3 linked regions of the Homo sapiens genome follow. The protein of the gene in region 2 interacts with the protein of the main gene of each other region in a biochemical or structural test. Each region holds a gene or a part of one and is shown on either strand. Other genes may lie near its edges.

What was found.
Region 1: the proteins of NF2 (region 2) and DCAF1 form a complex in vitro, tested with the Homo sapiens proteins (3 studies listed by BioGRID, with this or other methods).
Region 3: the proteins of NF2 (region 2) and CD44 form a complex in vitro, tested with the Homo sapiens proteins (2 studies listed by BioGRID, with this or other methods).

What each region holds. Positions count from the first base shown.
Region 1 is NC_000003.12:51,489,992-51,497,015, forward strand, and holds part of DCAF1 (DDB1- and CUL4-associated factor 1), read right to left. Parts: intron 6,790-7,024; 5' UTR 6,743-6,789; intron 2,523-6,742; exon of another isoform or gene 2,398-2,522; intron 1-2,397. UniProt on the Homo sapiens protein: Acts both as a substrate recognition component of E3 ubiquitin-protein ligase complexes and as an atypical serine/threonine-protein kinase, playing key roles in various processes such as cell cycle, telomerase regulation and histone modification.
Region 2 is NC_000022.11:29,676,629-29,683,652, forward strand, and holds part of NF2 (merlin), read left to right. Parts: intron 1-1,567; coding exon 1,568-1,695; intron 1,696-4,810; coding exon 4,811-4,973; intron 4,974-6,391; coding exon of another isoform or gene 6,392-6,427; exon of another isoform or gene 6,428-7,024. UniProt on the Homo sapiens protein: Probable regulator of the Hippo/SWH (Sav/Wts/Hpo) signaling pathway, a signaling pathway that plays a pivotal role in tumor suppression by restricting proliferation and promoting apoptosis.
Region 3 is NC_000011.10:35,134,356-35,142,194, reverse strand, and holds the start of CD44 (CD44 antigen isoform 1 precursor), read right to left. Parts: upstream 3,025-7,839; 5' UTR 2,892-3,024; coding exon 2,825-2,891; intron 1-2,824. UniProt on the Homo sapiens protein: Cell-surface receptor that plays a role in cell-cell interactions, cell adhesion and migration, helping them to sense and respond to changes in the tissue microenvironment.

The DNA of each region.
Region 1 (7,024 bases), on a different chromosome or scaffold from region 2:
AAGAGCAACACACAAAAATCAGTTGTACTGCTATACACTAGCCAAAAAACAATATGAAAGTAAATGAAGAGAACAATTTCATTTACAATAGCACCAAAAATAATAAAATAATTAGAAACAAATTTAATTTAAAAGGCACAAGGCCGGGAAGGGTGGCTCACACCTGTTAATCCCAGAACTTTAGGAGGCCAAGGTGGGTGGATTGCTTGAGCTCAGGAATTCAAGTCCAGCTGGGGCAACATGGCAAAACCTAGTCTTTACAAAAAAGGCAAAAAATTAGCCAGGCATGGTGTGCACCTGTACCAGGTATGCACCTGTACTCCCAGCTACTCGGTAGGCTGAGGTGGGAGAATCACCTGAGCCCAGTAAGTTGAGGCTGCAGTGAACCAAGATCGCACCACTGCACTCTAGCATTGAAGACATAGCGGGACCCTGTCTCAACAACAACAAAAAAGGCACAAACACAAGACTTGTATGCTGAAAACTACAAAACATTGCTGGAGTCAATTCATGATGACCTAAATTTTAAATAACCTAAATAAACAAAAAGACATTCTGTGTTCATGGATTAGAAGGGTTAGTATCAAGATGGTAATACATTCCAACGTGGTCTACAAATAAAATGCAATCGCTATCAAAATCCCAATGACAAACCAGGCATGGTGGCTCACGCCTGTAATCCCAGCACTTTGGGAGGCCAAGATGGGTGGATCACCTGAGTTCAAGAGTTCAACACCAGCCTGGCCAACATGGTGAAACCCCATCTCTACTAAAAATACAAAACATTAGCTGACCATGGTGGCAGACGCCTGTAATCCCGGCTATCTGGGAGAATGAGGCAAGAGAACCACTTGAACCCAAGAGGCAGAGGTTGCAGTAAGCCGAGATCGTGCCACTGCACTCCAGCCTGGGAGCAACAGAGAGAGACTCTGTCTCAAAAAACAACAACAACAAAAACAACCCAATGACATCTTTTGCAGAAATGGACATGCTGATTCTAAAATTCGTATGTAATTGCAAGGAAACCTGAATAGGCACAACAATCTTGGAAAAAAAAAAAAAAAAAACAAAGTCGGGGTCAGGCGCAGTGGCTCACACCTGTAATCCCAGCACTTTGGGAGGTCGAGGCAGGTGGATCACAAGGTCAAGAGATCGAGACCATTCTGGCCAATATGGTGAAACCCCATCCCCAGTAAAAATACAAAAATTAGCTGGGCGTGTTGGCACGCACCTGTAATCCCAGCTACTGGGACAGCTGAGGCAGGAGAACCGCTTGAACCTAGGAGACGGAGGCTGCAGTGAGCCAAGATTGCGCCACTGCACTCCAGCAAGGCAACAGAGCGAGACTATGTCTCCAAAAAAAAAAAAAAAAGTTGGAAAAATCACACTTCTGATTTCAAAACTTGCTACAAAACTATAGTAAATGGAACAGCATGGCACTGACATAAGGATCAACACAGAGACAAATACAATAGAATTGATAATCCAGCAATAAGCACTCACATCTATGATCAATTTTCAACAAGGGTACCAAGACCATTCAATAGGAAAAAAGTAATTTCAATAAGTAGTGCTGCCCAGGTGCAGTGGCTCATGCCTGTAATCCCTGCACTTTGGGAGGCCAAGACAGGCAGATAACTTGAGCAGGAGTTCGAGACCAGACTGGCCAACATTGTGAAACCCCATCTCTACTAAAATACAAAAATTAGCCAGGCATGGTGGCGCGCCTGTAACCCCAGCTACTCAGGGGGGCTGAGGCAGGAGAACTGCTTGAATCCAGGAGGCGGAGGTTGCAGTGAGCTGAGACAGCGCCACTGCCCTCCAGCCTGGGCGACAGAGCAAGACTCCATCTCAAAAAACAAACAAACAAAAAAGTACTGATGAGACTTGGCACAGTGGCTCACGCCTGTTATCCCAGCACTGTGGGAGGCCGAGGTGGGCAGATCACGAGGTCAGGAGATCAAGACCATCCTAGCCAACATGGTGAAACCCCATCTCTACTAAAATACAAGAAATTGGCCAGGTGTGGTGGCACACACTGGTAGTCCCAGCTACTCGGGGGGGCTGAGGGAGGGGAATCGCTTGAACCTGCGGGAGGCGGAAGTTGCAGTGAGCCGAGACTGCACCACTGCACTCTAGCCTGGTGACAGAGCAAGACCCGTCTCAAAAAAAAAAAAAAAGTAGTGAGACAATTGGATATTATCCCACAAAACAGCGAAGTTGGATCTTTGCCTCACAGTATATGCGAAAATGGGCCGAGTGCTGTGGCTCATGCCTATAATCCCAATACTTTAGGCAGATCATCTGAGGTCAGGAGTTTGAGACGAGTATGGCCAACAAGTTGAAACCCCATCTCTACTAAAAATACAAAAAAGAGCTGGGCATGGTGGCAGGTACCTGTAATCCCAGCTACTCGGGAGGTTGAGGCAGGAGAATCACTTGAACTCGGAGGGGACGGAGGTTGCAGTCAGCCGAGATTACCCCAATGCACACCGGCCTGGGCAAAAGGAGTGAGACTTTGTCTTAAAAACAAAAAAAAGGCCAAGAAACGCATGAAAGATACTCAACATCAGTCACTAGGAACTGCAAATCAAAACCATAATGAGATATCATTTCTCACCTACTAACATGACTGTAGTTTAAGAAATGAGAAAATATAAGCATTAGCAAGCATGTGAAGAAACTGGAACACATATTGCTTGTAGAAATGTAAAAGGGTGGCCCCGGGCGCGGTGGCTCATGCTTGCAATCTCAGCACTTTGGGAGGCCGAGGCAGGCGGATCGCGAGGTCAGGAGACAGAGACCATCCTGGCTAACATGGTGAAACCCCATCTCTACTAAAAATACAAAAAATTAGCTGGGCGTGGTGGCAGGCACCAGTAGTCCCACCTACTCGGGAGACTGAGGCAGGAGAATGGCGTGAACCCGGGAGGTGGAGCTTGCAGTGAGCCGAGATCGCGCCACTGCACTCCATCCTGGGTGACAGAGCAAGACTCCCTCTCAAAAAAATAAATAAATAAATAAAAGAAATGTAAAAGGGTATAGTAGTTATAAAAAACAGTTTGGGACTCTCTCAAAAAGTTGCAGGTTTTTTTTTTTAAGTCACATGTAGAATTACTATACGACCCAGCAATTTCACTACTAGATATATACCCAAAAGAACTGAAAACAAGGCTGGGTGTGGTGGCTCACACCTCTAATCCCAGCACTTTGGGAGGCCAAGGCGGGCAGATCTCCTGAGGTCGGGAGTTTAAGACCAGCCTGACCAACATGGAGAAACCCCATCTCTACTAAAAATACAAAATTAACCAGGCATGGTGGCACATGCCTGTAATCCTAGCTACTGGGGAGGCTGAGGCAGGAGAACCGCTTGAACTCAGAAGGCAGAGGTTGAAGTGAGCCAAGATTACGCCATTGCACTCCAGCCTGGGCAATGAGCGCAAAACTCCATCTCAGGGGAAAAAAAAAAGGAATTCAAACAAAGACTTATACACAAATGTTCTTGGTAGCATTATTCACAATAGCCAAAAAGTAGAAACAACCCAAAAGTCCATCATCAGATGAAGAGATAAACAAAATGTGGTATATGCATACAATGGAATATTCAGTCATAGAAATGAATGAAGTAGTAACATGCTACAGATGTGGAAAAACCTTGAAAACAATAAGAAAGCAGACACAAAAGGGCACATATTGTATGATTCTATTTATATAAAACATTGAAGGCTGGGCATGGTGGCTCACACCTGTAACCCCAGCACTTTGGGAGGCCAAGGCGGGTGGATCATGAGGTCAACAGTTCGAGACCAGCCTGGCCAACATGGTGAAACCCCCGTCTCTACTGAAAGTACAAAAATTAGCCGGGCGTGGTGGCATGCGCCTGTAGTCCTAGCTACTCAGGAGGCTGAGGCAGAAGCATCGCTTGAACCTGGGAGGCGGAGGTTGCAGTGAGCCAAGATTGCGCCACTGCACTCCAGCCTGGGCGACAGAGCGAGATTCCGTCTCAAAAAAAAAAAAAAAGTTGAAATAGGTAAATCAATATACAGAAAGCTAACTAGTAGTTGCCAAGGACTTGAGGAAAGGGGAAAATGGGCAGTGACTGCTAAATGGGTATGAGGTTTCCTTTTTTTTTTTTTTTTGAGATGGAGTCTCACTCTGTCGCCCAGAGACTGGAGTGCAGTGGCAGGATCTCGGCTCACTGCAAGCTCCGCCTCCCGGGTTCATGCCATTCTCCTGCTTCAGCCTCCCGAGTAGCTGGGACTACAGGCACCGGCCACCACACCCGGCTACTTTTTTGTATTTGTAGTACAGACGGGGTTTCACCGTGTTACCCAGGATGGTCTCAATCTCCTGACCTCGTGATCCACCCGCCTCAGCCTCCCAAAGTGCTGGGATTACAGGTGTGAGCCACCGCGCCCGGCCGAGGTTTCCTTTTAAGGTGATAAAAATATTCTAGAACTAGAAAGAGATAATGGTTGCACAACACTGTGAATCTACAAACGCCACTGATTTGTACACTTCAAAATGGGTAGTCGTTAATTTTATGCTACGTAAATTTACCACAATTTTTTAATGAGAAAAGAAATGATCCAGAAGAGACTGCTTCTTAGATAACTTAAGCAGTTAGCCTACTAGAGCACATAAAGACATGATTTTTTAAAAAACACTACCTCTAATAAAGATTAATTCAAGGGCATTAAAACACTAAAATTTTATATTTTTAAAATTTTTTAATTTTTATTATTTTGTAGAGACAGGGTCTCACTATGTTACCCAGGCTGGTCTCAAATTGCTGGGCTCAAGCAATCCTCTCCACTTGGCCTTCCAAAGTGCTAGGATTGTAGACATGAGCCACCATGCCTGGCCTAAAACACTAAAATTTTAGAGTTCAACTTAGAAACATATACATATATACTTCTGGTATCATTTTCAGAACTTCCAACTAATCTATGCCTGAAGATAATTATAACTTTGGGAATAACCATTTGCCCAAGGAAAATATAAACCTTAGTGAGACCTTGTCTCTATTATTTAAAAAAATAAAAAATAGGCCAGGCGTGGTGGCTCACGCCTGTAATCCCTGCACTTTGGGAGGCCAATGCGGGTGTATCATCTGAGGTCAGGAGCTCGAGACCAGCCTGGCCAACATGATGAAACCCTGTCTCTACTAAAAATACAAAAAATTAGCCGGACGTGGCAGCAGGCGCCTGCAATCCCAGCCACTCGGGAGGCTGAGGCAGGAGAATCGCTTGAACCCGGGAGGCAGAAGTTGCAGTGAGCCGAGATTGCACCACTGCACTCCAGCCTGGGCGACAAGAGCAAAACTCCATCTCAAAAAAAATATTAAGAATAATAAAGAATAAAAAAATATAAAGGCAAGGCGTGGTGGCTCACACTTGTAATCCCAGCACTTTGGAAGGCTGAGGTAGGAGGATCACTTGAGCCCAGGGGTTTGAGACCAGCCTGGGTAACAGTAAGACCTTGTCTTTATTATTTAAATACATAAATAAAGGAAAATATAAACTTGTAACAGACTAAATAAAGGAAAATATAAACTTGTAACAGACTTAACTAATAATAGCAATGTGAATTAACATAGTATCAATGAAAGCAGTCAGCAACTGAGTGTGGTGGCTCACACCTGTAATCCCAGCACTTTGGAAAACCTAGGTGGGCAGATCGCTTGAGCCCAGGAGTTTGAGACCAGCCTGGACAACATGGTGAAATCCTGCCTCTATGAAAAAAATTTAAAAATCAGTAGTAGTAGTACTTACTTCAATGTTCGTTTTTTTGTGTTTGTTTTTTGTTTTGTGAGACGGAATCTCGCTCTGCTGCCCAGGCGGGAGTGCAGGGACACAATCTTGGCTCACTGCAACCTGTAGTCCCAGCTACCTGGGGAGGCTGAAGCAAGAGAACTGCTTGAGCCTAGGAGGTGGAGGCTGCAGTGAGCCATAACTGCACCACTGTACTCCAGCCAGAGCAAAAGTGCGAGACCTTGTCTCAAGGAAAAAAAAAAAAGGCCGGGCACAGTGGCTCACACCTGTAATCTCAGCACTTTAGGAGGCCAAGGCAGGCAGATCACCTGAGGTTGGGAGTTCGAGACCAGCCTGACTAATATGGAGAAACCCTGTCTCTACTAAAAATACAAAATTAGGCCGGGCGCAGTGGCTCACGCCTGTAATCCCAGCACCTTGGGAGGCCGAGGCCGGCAGATCACAAGGTCAGGAGTTCGAGACCACCTGGCCAACATGGTGAAACCGCATCTCTACTAAAAATACCAACAAAATTAGCCAGGCATGGTGGCACACGCCTGTAATCCCAGCTGCTCCGGAGGCTGAGGCAGCAGAATCGCTTGAACCCAGGAGACAGAGGTTGCAGTGAGCCGAGATCGCGCCACTGCACTCCAGCTTGCACAACAAGAGCAAAGAAAACAGTCATCTTCACCTTGTTATGCCCAAGACAATAAGGGTGCATTACTCAAGTTCTTAAGTGAGTTCCTTTAAGTGCTATGAAGAAATGATGGTCTGTCCAATGGTGACACGGTAGTTACCAATTAGTGAATATCTAGTATGGGACAGACATTGAGCTAAGTAATTTACCATACTTACATTATTCTGAATTTTCACAACCATCCTACCCTTTTTCACACATGAGGAAACTAGCTCAGAGAGGTCCCCAAGACCAGCTAGTACTAGGTAGAAAAAAGGTTTCAAGGATTCAAATCCCAACTCTGCTGACATACCTGTGAAGTCTTGGTTATTTAACTTCTCCAAATCTCAATTTCCTTATCTGCAAGATGGAAACAGTTGTTGTGCGGGGTTAAATGACAATATTGTCCCCATGATGGGATAATATAAAGCCTCAAGAAATACTTATGTAAAATTTTCTTATCCTAACAAGCATCTGCTAGGGTATTTAGGGATGACAGGCCTGCAACTTATTTTCAAATGATTCCACAAAATATATATATAGATACCACACACACAAATAGAGAAAATATGGCATAATATTAACAACTGTTTGC
Region 2 (7,024 bases):
TCCCTCATGGATGAGTATTTAGTCTGTTTTCTTTTGCAATTTTGAACAAAATGACACTGAACATCCCTGAACACAAATCTTGACACACACACGTGGATATATTGGTAGAATAAATTCTTATAATAGAACTGTGGGGTCAAATTTTCGATTTTGATACTCTCCAAAGAAGTCATACCAGTTCATGCTCTCACTAGTGGTGCAGCAACTAGTACGCGTTTTTGCTGAAAATTTTTATGATGTGTAACATACACATAGAGAAGTGCCCAAATTACAACTGTACAGTTTGAAGAATTTTCACAAACTGAACATACCCATGTACCCAGCACCCAGATCAGAAAACAGGACATCCCTGGCACCCAAGGAGCCTTCTCTCAGCACCCTTGCAGACGGTCTGCCTCAGGCCTTGAGAATGTCTCAAATGAATGTTCCAAGCCTCTGCTCTTTCCCAGACACTGTCCTAGACTCAATACGGGATCCAAGGATGAAAAAGAGGCAGATTGTTTGCAGGAAACTTGCAAATAGTAGAAAGAAGATACAGCCAAAAAGAAATCTTTTACAGGGTGGAATCGCAGAAGAACCATTAGAGAACCGTAAACACAGCGTTAAGGGACAGCAAAGAAAAGGGTTGCCGGCTGGCTGGGAGGGGCTAGAAAGGCTTTGGTGAGAGATCGTGGTGTTTGAGAAGGGCCTTGAAAGAGGGATGGAGCATAGGGAGGAGAAATGGGATAGGCAGGGGTACAGAGATGGGAAGGCAGTAGTCCAGGGGATAATAAACAATACTGTCTGTGACTTAGTAGGGCAAATAGTAGGAGAAGCCGGGAAGCTAGATTGGGGTCCTCTTTAGATGACCCTTTGTGCTGGGATGAAAGTCCAAAAAAAAAAAAAACTACACCACCCCTGCTTCAGGCCCTACTCCGGTTCCATTGTCCAAGCCCAAGCCCCTCGGTGGGCCGGTGGGGAGCCCTTTGTGGTGGTGCCCATCTCCCACCCCACCTCTCCACACTGCATGGCAGACTCCTGGCACCCTCACTGGGCACTGCCCCACCCATTGCCATACTTCCCGTCCGGCAGACCTTCTCCTGGCACTGCCTTGGATCCCAGCAAAAGCAGCATCTCTTCTAGCCTCTGTTCGCTCCCTGGCTACAGTGTTTACCTTTTTTAACAGTGATGATCTGTGAACACATCTATTTCCTGAACAAGACTTTCAGCTGCTCAAAGCCAAGGATGCTGTCTTGTTTTCTGCATCTCCAGCCCCTTGCACAGGGCCTGGGAGTTTCCTAAATGAAAAAGCGAGTGGGAGTTTGTGTTTGATTCAGCTGAGCATGAAGAACGGTTAGAGATTTGAGGGATGATTTTCCTGGATTTGTAGTCTTTGATATTGTTTACCTGGCAGTGGCAAATGTGGAGGGAGTGAAGTGGAGGGATGGGGACTCGTGGTGGCATTGGGAGGTGGGACCCGAGTTGTGCCCATTGCCTCTGTGGCTGCTGGAGGATCGGTTGTCAACACAGTAGTGTCCTTCTGTGCTTGTATGACCCAAGCTCCTAATCCGAAATTTCTCATTAACAGCCCATGAACCCAATTCCAGCACCGTTGCCTCCTGACATACCAAGCTTCAACCTCATTGGTGACAGCCTGTCTTTCGACTTCAAAGATACTGACATGAAGCGGCTTTCCATGGAGATAGAGAAAGAAAAGTATGTAGCCCCCTGTGCCCTGCTGTGGGCAGCTGTGAACTAGACTGAGTGATTGGGGCCTTGGGAAGCTGGGGCAGAGGTGAGAGGTCGCTGCAGCAGCCTGTCATTACTCCTGCAAAGGTTTGCTCTGCTCTTACACCCTGGAGGAAGAATTTCCTTAATCAGAAATTAAGGACAACAGATCAGCATTCATTCTGAACGAATAAAAATAACAATTTTTATCCAGGATAAAAATAACACTTGACTGGTGAGCTGGAGTTTTTGGTGGCTCTAAGCCTCACCTAAAGTGTAGGACTGGGTTGTTAGCATCTCTGAGTCAGTTCAACTGCTGTTATACTACTGGACTGTAGTCACCTCCTAGTTGTGTTCTCCAGCAACTGGGATCTGTGGTGGTTCCCATGTCTAGAACAAACAAAGGTGAGAGAAGAGACTCAGGCTCGAGGCTAAGGAAAGCTGACAGCTGGTGGGGCCACTTTGCTGCAGTGGGTGGCACTGGGCAGGGCCCCAGCATGGCCTGATCATGGCAGCAATTGCTGAGCTGCCCTCCGTCTTCCCTTTATTGTGGGTAGAAGTGGATCAGAGATGGAAAGGAAAGGATCCCCACTGCAGAGGAAATCTAAGCGAGGGCCCCTAGTTCCCAGAGCTAGCGGTAAGTTGGTTAACTGCTGCTGCTTGCTAGAGGACAACCACAGTAGCTACCATGCATTGAGTGCCTGTGTGTCAGGGGTTTTGGCTTTTGTCTCATTTAATTCCTGCTAACTTACAAACATCAAAATGACATCAAAGGTAGGTTTTCATGTTCCCATTTTATAAGTGAGAACTCAGATTTAGAGAGTTTAGTGAACTCCACCAGCATCCCACAGCTGATGCAGAGGGGTTGAAACCCCTCACCCATCTGACTCTGCAGCCCATGTGCTTTTACCATGGGTGGTATCCTCAGGAAAACCCTTTGGGGAAAGTGTCTCCATGGAGTCCAGTATGGGCAACCAGAACCCAGGCTGTTTTTCTTTGGGCTCTCACACTGAGGGTATAGCTAAGTAGCCAATGAACCAGAGCCTCTAGCTGTCATATCTGCTGTCCATGTTCCTTTCACCATTATCCAGACATATACATTTATGTGGTTGGGATCCGGGATCAGGGTGAAGCTGTTCTGTGTCTGCTATTTTATAGTTTGTATTTTGTTACTATCTTAGTTTGTTTTGGCTACTGTAACAAAATACCAGAGGCTGGGTAGCTTATAAACAACAGAAATTTATTTCTTGGCCAGGCACAGTGGCTCATGCCTGTAATTCCAGCACTTTGGGAGTCCAAGGGGGGCAGATCTCTTGAGCCAGGAGTTCAAGACCAGCCTGGGCAACATGGCAAAACCCCATTTCTACTAAGAATACAAAAATTAGCTGGGTGTGGTGGCACATGCCTGTGGTCCCAGCTACTCGGGAGGCTGAGGTGGGAGGATTGCTTGAGCCTGGGAGGCAGAGGTTGCAGTGAGCCCAGATTGCACCACTGCACTCCAGCCTGGGCAACAGAGAGACACCCTGTCTCAAAAAAAAAAAAAAGAAAAGAAAGAAATTGATTTCTCACAGTTTGGGAGGCTGAGAAGGCCAAGATCAAGGCACGGGCAGAGGTGGAGTCTAGTGAGGGCATTCTTGCTGGTTCATAATCAGCCCCTTTTTGCTGCATGCTCACCCAGTGGAAGGGATGAGGGGTCTCTCTGGAGTCTCTTTTATAAGGGCACTAATCCCATTCATGAGGCTCTACCCTCATGACTGCCCAAAGGCCCCACCTCCTGACACTTTTTTTTTTTTTGAGATGGAGTCTCACTCCATCGCCCAGGCTGGAGTGCAGTGGTGCGATCTCGGCTCACTGTAACCTCCACCTCCTGGGTGCAAGCGATTCTCCTGCCTCAGCCTCCTGAGTAGCTGGGATTACAGGCGCATGCTATCACGCCCAGCTAACTTTTGTATTTTTAGTAGAGATGGGGTTTCACCATGTTGGTCAGGCTGGTCTCGAACTCCTGACCTCATGATCCGCCCACCTTGGCCTCCCAAAGTGTTGGGATTACAGGCGTGAGCCACCACACCCAGCCGGTGATTAGGTTTCCACATATGAATTTTGAAGACACGAACATTCAGACCATAGCACTTCTTACCCTTGCACATATTGGCAGAGTCTCTATACTAACCATGGCAATCCCTATGGAGTGTTTTTGGTATTTGTATTGCATGGTTTTTCTGGCCATGCCTTGTAGTTGGACACTTTGTGGGTGGTTTCCAGATTTTCACCATCATAGATGCTGTCACTCAGTGTTATCTGTTCTCAGGTGAGGGTGGGGATCTTTTCTTCCTTGCGTTGGGTGAGCTTCTGAGTGAGCTTCTGTCATCTTTAGATGAAGTCTCAGAACAAGTGGGAATGTGGATGTGGCCTATCAAAAGAGATCACGTGAAGCTGGGCGCTGTGGCTTATGCCTATAATCCCAGCCCTTTGAGACCAGGGGTTCAAAGCCAGCCTGGGCAGCATAGCAAGATCCTATAAAAAAAAAAAAGAGTTTACTTGAATTACTGCTCCAAGAAGGGTTGAGACAAGGAGATTGTTCTGGGTTCCCAGGAAGCTTGTTTCACGTATGTTTTTTTTTTGTACAGAACGAAAAGCTGTCCATGAGAGCTGGTATTTGTAGAGCCCCCTATGAGAATTTACCAAGGGCTTTTCTACTCTTTCTTTTTCTTTCCTTTTCTTTTTTTTTTTTTAAAAATAGAGACAGGGTCTTGCTATGTTTCCCAAGCTGGTCTCCAACTCCTGGGCTCAAGCAATCCTCCTGCCTCAGCCACCCAAAGTACTGGGATTACAGGTGGAGCCACCGTGCCTGGCCTCCTACACTGTTTTATTTAATCCTAACCACGGCCCTGTGATCATTATCCCAATTTTAATGATGAGGAAACATTCATAGCATTTAAGTGACCAGCCCAAGCTCCCATGGCCTGTGAGTGGCCAAGTAGAGACGTGAACCCCAGGCCTCAAACCCTAGATCGCACACCAAGCAGCTTGTGGGCCGCAGAGCACCTGAGCCGTGTCTCACTGTCTGCCCAAGCCCTGATGCATGATACCCTCTTGCCGGCAGAGTGGAATACATGGAAAAGAGCAAGCATCTGCAGGAGCAGCTCAATGAACTCAAGACAGAAATCGAGGCCTTGAAACTGAAAGAGAGGGAGACAGCTCTGGATATTCTGCACAATGAGAACTCCGACAGGGGTGGCAGCAGCAAGCACAATACCATTAAAAAGGTACCCAGGGTCTCTTTCTTGTATTTTGCTGATCAGGACCATCATTAATGAAATGTGCGGTTGGCATCTGGTTTCCTCAGTAGCCAAGTCACTAGACTATTGGCATCTTTTGTATGTACTTAGTTGAGGAAATTTTTTAACTTATGCCAGAAAGGGAATTTAATCTGCCAATGACTATGAACCCATTGGCTGGATGGAAGTTGAGCTTGTGTTAAAAGCTCTGATGTAATGAACCCCTGTTACAGGGTGGATTTTGAGCCCTCATTTAGCAGTAAAGCATAATGCCCTTTTAAGCCAAGGGGTGTTATACCCAGGGAGCTGCCTTACTTTATGAGAAAGCAGAATGAAATGGAGGCTATTGAGAATGGACTTTCCCTCTAGTCTTGTGGTGTCTTTAAGTGGCAAGGACTATAAAACCAAACTGAATTTTTAACTTTTTTCATACTTAAAAGGAAGTGTCTAGGAAAGAACCTCTTTGTTTTAAAAGAGAAGACTTTATTACTTTGCAAATGGTTTCATATCTTTCTCTACTGGTATTTTGAGCTTTCAGCATTGTCGAGATTCAGAAGCTAAATTCCATACTAATTATCAGCCCAAGAGCATACCTCTCTCATTTGGGCCAAGCAGAAGGGTCCTCTCATACCAAATAATGCTCTGCTCTTAACTGATAGCCCAGGACCAGGTTAACACCTATAAAATAGGTGTTATTAAGATAAGACTGTCCATTGAGTTTAGGTGATACTGATACAGTTAATTTTTTATTCTTTACCTCAGTCTTTAAAATAGGCTTCCAGTTTTATGGACTGTCTCTGTTTTTAGTGGTTAAGCTGTATCTGAAAACTCCAGGGGATCTGTTTCTGCCTGCCTTCGTTGTTGGGTACAGTAGGCAGCCCTGACTTCTACCTCTCGACTCCAGTCACAACTGGCACCGGGTAGAGAATTCCTTTTAATAGTGCAACCTAGAAGGAAAGGCATTTCCACATTCCACATTCTTCTTTCCTCTGGCTTCTGTAATTTACTGGGCTTCCCTTCCAAAACAAAATTATTAAACAGTAAAGGGGAGTTCAAGGGAGGCCTCGGTCATTAAGGAAAGAGGTAAAACGATGGCTGAGCCAGTGAGCCAGTCAGCCCTTAAATGAACTGCCTCAGACACCCCATCTCACCCCTTACCCCCAGCCTTGTCATCTGGGTCCCAGGAACAGTCTCACCATTTCCACTGCTGCTGCAATGAGCAGTGCCCTCAGCCACAGAAACCTGCAGTGTGAGAGCTGGAGAGACCCCGTTCCAAGCCATTAAAACAAACAAAATCACTCATCACGATTTCAGGCCTATCCAAGCATTTTGCAGATGGCACTTATGGCATTGTTGATATCACAGGGTATGTTTTTGTTTTTCTTCATTTTATTTTGCTGGTTTAGCCTCAAGCCCAAGGCAGAAGACCTATCTGCATTTGAGCCCTCAAAGTAGGTTGTTCCCAGGTACTCTCTATGTGGTGATGGTGCTGCCCTCTGTGATACTAACCCGTGCATGAGCTTGCCTGTCTCTGTCCTCGGGCCACACTGAGCCCTTACGAGGGCAGGTGGTGCCTGGGTACTGGCCGCAGCATGCTTTGAGTCTAAAAGTAGGCACCCACCCTGTGAAGCCAGACCAGCCTCCAGGGCCCCAGAAGACTGCCTCGTTCCGAAGAGCATGTCATGGGGCTGTAGGACCAGCCATTCTTCCCATCTCGGGTCATTGTTGGGCTGGGGAAGGTTATGGCTTCTTGTCCAGTCAGGTGTGTCTAAAAGTCCTTTGTCTTGGTGGCATACTCCTAGCATGGAAATGGGGTCAATCTGGGCACTTTGGAGACTGGTGTGTTTAACTCAAGATCAAGACCTTTTATGCGTTGACAGCCTCTCAAGACCCATGGTCACACCTGGCAGCTTCTGGTAGTGGGGCAAAAGGGTTGCTTGTGCTGGCTCATTTTCCTTTAGAGCTTTCCCTTTCTGCACACATCCCTTTTCTTTTCAAATAAAGCAAACCCAGAGCACAGGGTCTGATATGTGAGTCCA
Region 3 (7,839 bases), on a different chromosome or scaffold from region 2:
TAATTAAAAAAAAAGATCCCCTCACCCACAGAGACAAGGAGATGCATGTGCATGAAGGACTCATCCCCCCTGGCCTCCACCAAGGGCCACTTTCTTCCTCCTGCACAAGACCCCGAATTCAAGATATCTGTTCCCCAACTCAGAGTTTCTGGGTCCAATGTCACTTAACTACATTTGGCCATTTCTCCACTTTTTGCTTTCCCATACAAAGACTGGACTCCTCCTCAAAGCCTTGCTCCTTTCCAAAGTTTCCTCGTGGTTGTCCAGAGTCCACCACTCCCCAGAATGGGGCAACAAGAGCTCCTTTCCTTCCCCTTTCCTCCTTCTCCCCTTCGCCACCCACACCATGCCCAGCCCCAAGCCCTCTGACAAAGTCATGTCTCCTTTCCAAGTCCCAGTTCCTGCCAAACAACTTTACAAGCACATGAAAGCGAGGGCCGGGGCAGTTATTGCTACTGGCACTTCATTGTACTTCCTCTAAATGATGCTGCGCAAAGGGGCCGTGGAAACACGGGGCAGGAGGGAGACTGCGGGTCTCTGGGAGAACCTCAAGGGTTAGGACAGTGCCAAATATTTGGAAGTGGGGCCTTTTAGAAGGAACGGGGAGACAGGTTGGAAGGAGTCAGGAGTCAGAATGCCCAAAGACAAAGCAGAAGATGGCACTGGTAGGTAACATACAAATAAACTTCCCTAGAGACTATAGGGAAACCACCAGGGCCCTCTTCTTTCAGGCCAGGCCCAGGGCTCTCCCTGATCTCCAGCTTGACTCTTCTCTCCCATCCTGAATGTTTCCACTTTTCAAGGGCTTATTTGAGCTCCAGTCCCTTTTGGAACTTTCCCTAAGGCCTAGAGTCCACCAAAATCCTTCCCTCCCTGAAATCCTTCCAAGTTCGTCCATCTTATACAGTCTAACATATTCTAAGCCTAGGCTTTGGAGCTCAGTGGAGCTGGGTTTCCATCCAGCACTGCTCCTGGCTATGTGAATGCCAGCAAGTCACTTAACGTCTCTAAGCATCAGTTTTCCTCCTGTCAAACAGGCCTGATAACAGGAAGCTTCTTACTAGGCCATTGTGAGGGTAGAATGAGATAACACATGGAAAATATTTAACATAATGCCTGGCACAGTGAAAATATACAGTAAATGGTAGCTAGCACTGTATTCATTTTTTTTTTTTTAACAGAGTCACGCTTTGTCACCCAGGCTGGAGTGCAATGGCATAATCTTGGTTCACTGCAACCTTCACCTCCTAGGTTCAAGCAATTCTCCTGCCTCAGCGTCCCAAGCAGCTGGGACTACAGGTGTGCACCACCACACCCTGCTAATTTTTGTATTTTTTGTAAAGATGGGGTTTCACCATGTTGGCCAAGGCTGGTCTCAAACTCCTGACCTTGGGTAATTTGCTGCCTCAGCCTCCCAAAGTCCTAGGATTACAGGCATGGGCCACCATGACAGGCTGTGTTGTTGCTATCATTATTATTATTATTTCAGCTTCAGTAGTATAAATCCTAGATCCCCAAATCCCCACCTAGCAAAGACCTCTCACTCACACAGAAAGGGAGATGCATATGCACAGAGAACTCATCCTGCCTAGCCTCCACCTAGGGTCACTTTCTTCCTACTGCAGAAAGTAGGAAGATAGAGAAAGCAGAAAGTAATTCAAGATACTTTATACTGGGTACTCAATCTAAACTACCTGGGTGAGACTGTGTGTTTCAATTTCTCAGTACTCCCGTGGAACTGGGTTAATAAATATTTGCTGAGTAGAATTTACTGCATGCAGGCTGAGCTGTCTTAATGACCCAGCTGGCACTTCTTAAAAGAAAGATTAATTTTGGCCAGCGATAAGCAAATCGGCCATGTAATTATCTGTACATACATAGACAAAGAAAGAGAATGCTTGGAGTTGAGCCGTGCTAGAATATACCTTACACGCAGCCCCTCCCCTCCATAGCCACCACAAAGCACTGACCCTGTTTGGATGAGATATTGGAGCCCTAGCTCCAGGGTCCCTGATGTTGCCCTGGTATCAAGGCTCTTCTCTCTGCTCTGAGGCTGCCAGGCAGGGAATATAAGCCACCTTACTGTTGAGATTTCCCCACACTGATTGGCAGAAGCAGGAGGTGGTGAGGACCAAGCAGCTGGTCCAGTGGTTGCCTCTCATATTCATGCTCCCTATCCCAGGCTGGAATCTCATGGAGACCCAAGACCTCACCGCAGAGCTGGTTCAAGCTTCCACAGCGCTAAGGTGGCAGTGACACTGCGGACTGTAAGCTTTGGAACAAGGCTCAGTGGGGAGCTGGGAGAACCCAGGACCCCTTTCTGGAAAACCCATTGCCAGCTAGTCTCACACTTGGAATTGTGATCCCTTCTGTGACCACCTTGATAACAGCCACTCGCCCTGTTCCAGCCCCAGTCTCTGCCCCGCCCAGCTCTGCCCTGCCTAGACACAGCCCGGTGGGGCTTGGCGAGCCCTTGGGCACAGGAGCCTGTTAGTCCAGACAACGACTGTGCGCATCCGGGAGAACGGTTACTTTCTGCCATGTGCTGCAGCTCTAGCGACCTCGCCCAAAACTGCGCGCCGGCAGCCTGCCCAACAAACTTTCTTCTCTTTCTCTTTTTCTTTCAACCAAATGGTGCTTCCACAGACACATTCTCCAACGGTTTAGCGCAAATCCCAGCCCTGCTTTCCGGAGCCCAATGCACTTCGCAGACAGCTCACTTGACTCCAGTCCCCCAGGGCCGACTCAGCCGGAGGGGCTGCCGCCGGGTCCGCGCTGAGCACCCCGCACCCATCTTGCTGCCCAGGCTGCGGCGGGCACTCACCGATCTGCGCCAGGCTCAGCGGCACGAGGCAGAGTCCCCAGGCTGCGTGCCACCAAAACTTGTCCATGGTGTCCGGAGCGAACGGAGGGCGCGGGCGAAAGGAGCTGGAGGATCCCTGGGCGCGGGGCAGGGGCCGGCGGAGGACGGGACGAGGATGGCGGACCGAACCTGGCAGAGGCTGGGGTCCGCTGGGCAATGAGGCTGCCTCGGAAGTTGGCTGCAGTTTTTATTCGAGGTTGAAAACAGTGACCTAAGACGGAGGGAGGGAGCGAGCGAAGGACACACCCAAGCAAGGGGGGCTGTGACTAAGCAGCCCGCAGAGGTTTTAAGAAGTAGCAGCCCTCCCGGGCGGGCCCCTCTGCCCCCGCCCCGTGCTCTGCTGAGGCTGTAAATAATCGGGGCTGCCAGGGACGTGGGTCGGGGAACCTGGAGTGTCGCGGGGTGCCTGTGCCTCCGAGCCCCACTGGCCCCTGCGCCCAGAGACGCACTGGCTTTCTTCTCCCGCTGGCCCCGCGGCGTCAGGACAGAGGATGACCGAACCGTAAAACCTTGCACCATTGGGTTCAGCCTTTGGCCTCTCCTTTCCCGCTAAATTTCTCTGAATCCGGCTGGAGCAAGATCTCTGGGTTTCACAGGATGTTGGATATCCTGGGAGAGGAGCTGGAGAGAGGGCGAGGTCTTGCCCTGGGTGGCGCAGTGCCTCCGTGCCCACAGTGGGGAGTGAGGGGTGGGGAGTTGGTGAATCTTCCAAGTGGAAAGAGGGAGAGCTCATTCTTTTTCCCCTCAATAACAAGTCCACATGGCTTGAATGAATTTTAGCTTCTTGGCAGAACAGCTCAGGGAAAGCTACTGATGGCCTGTCATAGGGCTGGCATTTGGCTCAGCTAACCCATGTGTTCAAGCCAGTGTGAATGGGCACCTCTCTCCACACACATGCTCATTCATCCTCCTAAATATCCTTCCATCCGCCCATCCATCTATCCACCCATCTTTCCTTATGTCCTTCTGGGGCTCTCACATCCATCCATCCTCCTGTCCATCCACTAACCACTTAGGTCCATCTATCATCCCACTCATTCATTCATCCAACCACACACCTTTTAATTTATTCAACCACCTATTCTTCTATTCATCTTCCCATACAACTTCTCATCCATCATTCCACACTTCCTTTTTCACATCTCTTCATAAAACCACAACCATCCACCATCCTCTTCTCCACCCATCCACCCACATATCTGTTTATTGATATATCCACTCATTTCCCATCTGTCCAAGATCAACATATCCACCTATCATTTTATCCATTCTCTCATCCACCCATACGTTCATCTATTATTTTTGCCCCCATTATCCTCCTTTCTGTGTAAACATTAATTCATTTTCTCCCATCTTTCCTACCCAGCAGATCTTAAAGAGAGGAAGAGTTTGTAATATTCTTCAGGGGAAGCCTTTTGAGATTGAAATATCATACTTTGAATGATAACTCTATATCTATCTATAATATACTATGGTTTAATGTTTGGAAATCAAACGCAGTATTTATTTGTCATGTGAACTACTAAAAGTAAATCTGCATGGACTTCTTGCCTGGTGAGTTACACAGAAAATGAAAGTGATTATCAGTGGCTGTGGCAAGATGAAAGGAACCATGCCAGGACTTCTGAGGGAAGGTAAGATTTTGTTATTTATTTCAAGAAATTGAAAAGTTGAGAGAAATGCACCCAGCCATCCCCCTATGCATTCATTCATCAGACATGTAATGAGTGTTGTGGGGTATCGAGGTAAATAAGACCTGGCGCTATCTTCAGAGCCCTCACCCTCTGGTACGGAATAAAACTCACAAGCAGGCCATTACCATGCAAGGTGAAATATGCTGCAAAATGTGTGTGTTTGGGGTGCTACCATTCCTAGAGAAGGGAGTCACACTCTCTCCTGGAGAACACCAGGCAGTCTTCACAGGGGAAGTGATATTTGAGGCAGGCCTCAAAGGAAAAGGAGGAGGAATTCTTCAGATGAAACTACAGGGACAAGTAAGTCATCCACAGGCAGTACAGTGTAGTGACGAACAGCATGGATTCAGGAGCTAGAACACCTAGATCCAAACCCTATTATGGCTGCTTCTTAGTTGTGTGACCTTGCCTAAGGCAATTAGCTCAATTTGCTCAAGTATAAAATGGGCTTAATAATAGTATCTATTATTACTATTACAATTCTATTACTTCATAGAATTGGTGAGGATTAAATGACTCAAAAGCCCTGCATGTATTAAGCCGTAGATTTATGTCTACATATGCATGCAGTAAGCACTTTAAATAAGTGTTTGCTATCATTACTAAAAGCAAAATTGTGTTTGAGCATAGAAAAGTGAAAGAACATGGCTTGTCCAGAGAATAGAGAGCAATGTGAGCTGATCTGAACATAGATCAGATGAAGGGGCTGGGGGAAGATAGCAGACATGAGGTTACAGGTATGGGGACTACAAGGTGTAAGCTATGCCAGGGAGTTTGAACTTGACCCTGTAGGAAATAAGGAGGCAACGTACTTAGTTAAAATTATTATCATTGTTATGTTAAAATATGCATAACATAAAATTTACCATTTCACCCATTTAAAAGTGTTTATAGCAGTGACGTGTAGTACTTTAACAATATTGTGCAACCACTACCACTGTCTAGTCCGGTATAAATTTTTCAGTTGTGGAGATTCTGTTTGACTAAAGACTACTCCTCTTGCATTTTCAGGAAGAGTGTTTGGGACTGAAAAATCCTTGTCTGGATCTAGTCCTCAGCCACTCAGAAGCTGGCATGCCATGACTCAAAGAGCCGCCCGTCTGGAATGAAGACAGTGACCCGTAACTCCCACCTGAAGAGCAGGTGCTTGGAAAATGCTGCCAGTCCGCAGGAAAAAGTTGTTACTGCTGCTGTCTGTGACCAAGAGGACACTTTATTTCTTGAAACAACTGGGGGCAAACTGGCTCCCAGATAAGGCTTCAGTCCCTACTCATGTGAGGAAACCAGCCCTGGTAGGTTCCATGCACAAGAATACAGGACAAGGAGCAGCTTTTTTCACCTCATGCAACCTCCAGGGATTTCAGCTTCCTTTTCTTGGAGCAAGAAAGTGAAGTGACGTGGGGAGTCACTAGGAACAATGTCTGTCTTACTGTGTTTCATGGAACCTGGAGGTTCCTTAGAGACCCCTCAGAAGCAGACCTAGTGGTCAGAGTAAAAGCTGAGGAGTAAGCTGTGCCTCTCCCTCCCCAGGCCCCATCCCAACCACAGAAGTTCCACTTGCATCAGTTTTATATACCAGACTATTGCATGAAATTACATTTTGACAGATGATTATTCTTAAAAAATATATAAAAACCAACAAACTAGGCCATATCAAGTCCTGGTCCCTTCTCCATTAGTGCAGTAAACAATTCCACCAAGGAAAATATAGGTGTGAAAGTGCTTTGCAAACTGTAGAAGGGCATGCAAATTCTAGGGGCTGTAATTAGGATTATTCTCCCCAGAAGCGGGGATTATTTTGTTTGCTTGCTTCCCGATAGTTTGGTGAGGGACTGAGGTCATTTGCCCCCATACCACAAATGACTCATTTCAAATAACAGACCTGGTGACTTACTGAGTCAAGGTCCACCTTTGGGAATTCCTGGATCACCTCTTTGAGCTCCCCTCTCATCCACTTTCCATTCTAAAGACACCCTGCCCACACCACTGGTCACACAAACCCTTCCCAAACTCTTAGATGCTTGATATCTGTTGTGTGTTGCACCATCTTTCTTTCTAAGCCAAACCATGGGATGTGGGAAACTGGAAAGGAAACTTGAATTGATTTGAGTTGACACGAGATTACACTATTTGGGAAGAATCCAGAATTCAATCAGCAGCCTTGGACCGAGAAAGTCCAGGTCTGAGCATTGGCTTTCCCCCTTATCAGAGGATGACTTAACCTCTGGGAGTTTCGGTAATCCCAGCCACAAAACAAGGGTAATCAGACCTTTCCCATAGTTTATTATGAGTAGTCAGTGAAAGAAGACATCAAGACCATTTCCTGGTGTGCCTGCCTCATGGTGGGACTCAATGACCTCTAAGCTACCTGAGAACAGGGACATGTCCTTCTGGGGTGCCAGCACATACTCAGCTCTCAGTCCCTAACATATACACTGTGCTCCATAAATAAGCATTACATAAATGTATGAGGGACTGTTATTTTTTTTCCCTCCCATCAAAGCGCATAGGGGTGTTTCAGGAATCACATGAACTGGTGGGAGGAAACACATAGACAACTTGACAGTTTCTAAATAAATGCAAGCAGTGACATCCTATTTGGGGTGACTGGTTCAGGGAGACTTGAGTGCAAACAGAGCATTACTCACTCTGGCAGACTAGGGTTCTTTGCTGAAATATTGGGGACTGATGGCTTCTGACTGGTAGTAATAAATCCTGTTCCTCTCGAGCAAAGAAAAGCCAAATCTAAACCAAATGTGAGCAGGAGTGTGAAATGGAAAGCTGGGAGATCTTGGGCTGAATCATGGAATTCAAGGATTACAAATGCAGCAGGTCACAGACTCTTTTAAAGGGACAATATTTAATTATTTCACGGGACAGCTTCCCAGAAAAGGAATGATCTGGCACAGTAAAGAAAAAATGACATTCCAGTTAAACCTTAACTCTTAAAAAAATTCATCCTTAGTTCATATTCACAGTGTGAATTCTACACATATAAATGAGCAGTGGTGAAAAAAGCTCTTGCGAAATAATTATTAGTAAAGTCTAAATAAACCAGTAGCTGGGAAGCAATCTTCATGAAAAATAAATAACCTCTAAGGATTAGTCTCAAGCTAACCAAATGTGATTATAGAGCTGAGCCTTTAGGATTAATAAGGCTTTCAAATTATGGTAAATAAAGAAATTGGTGTGGCTGCTGCACCCTGGAAGTCCCAAGGGGAGAGATGCAACTGGATTTTTTAGATAGATCCATGTTAGCCACAAAATGGGTTTTACGCAGAC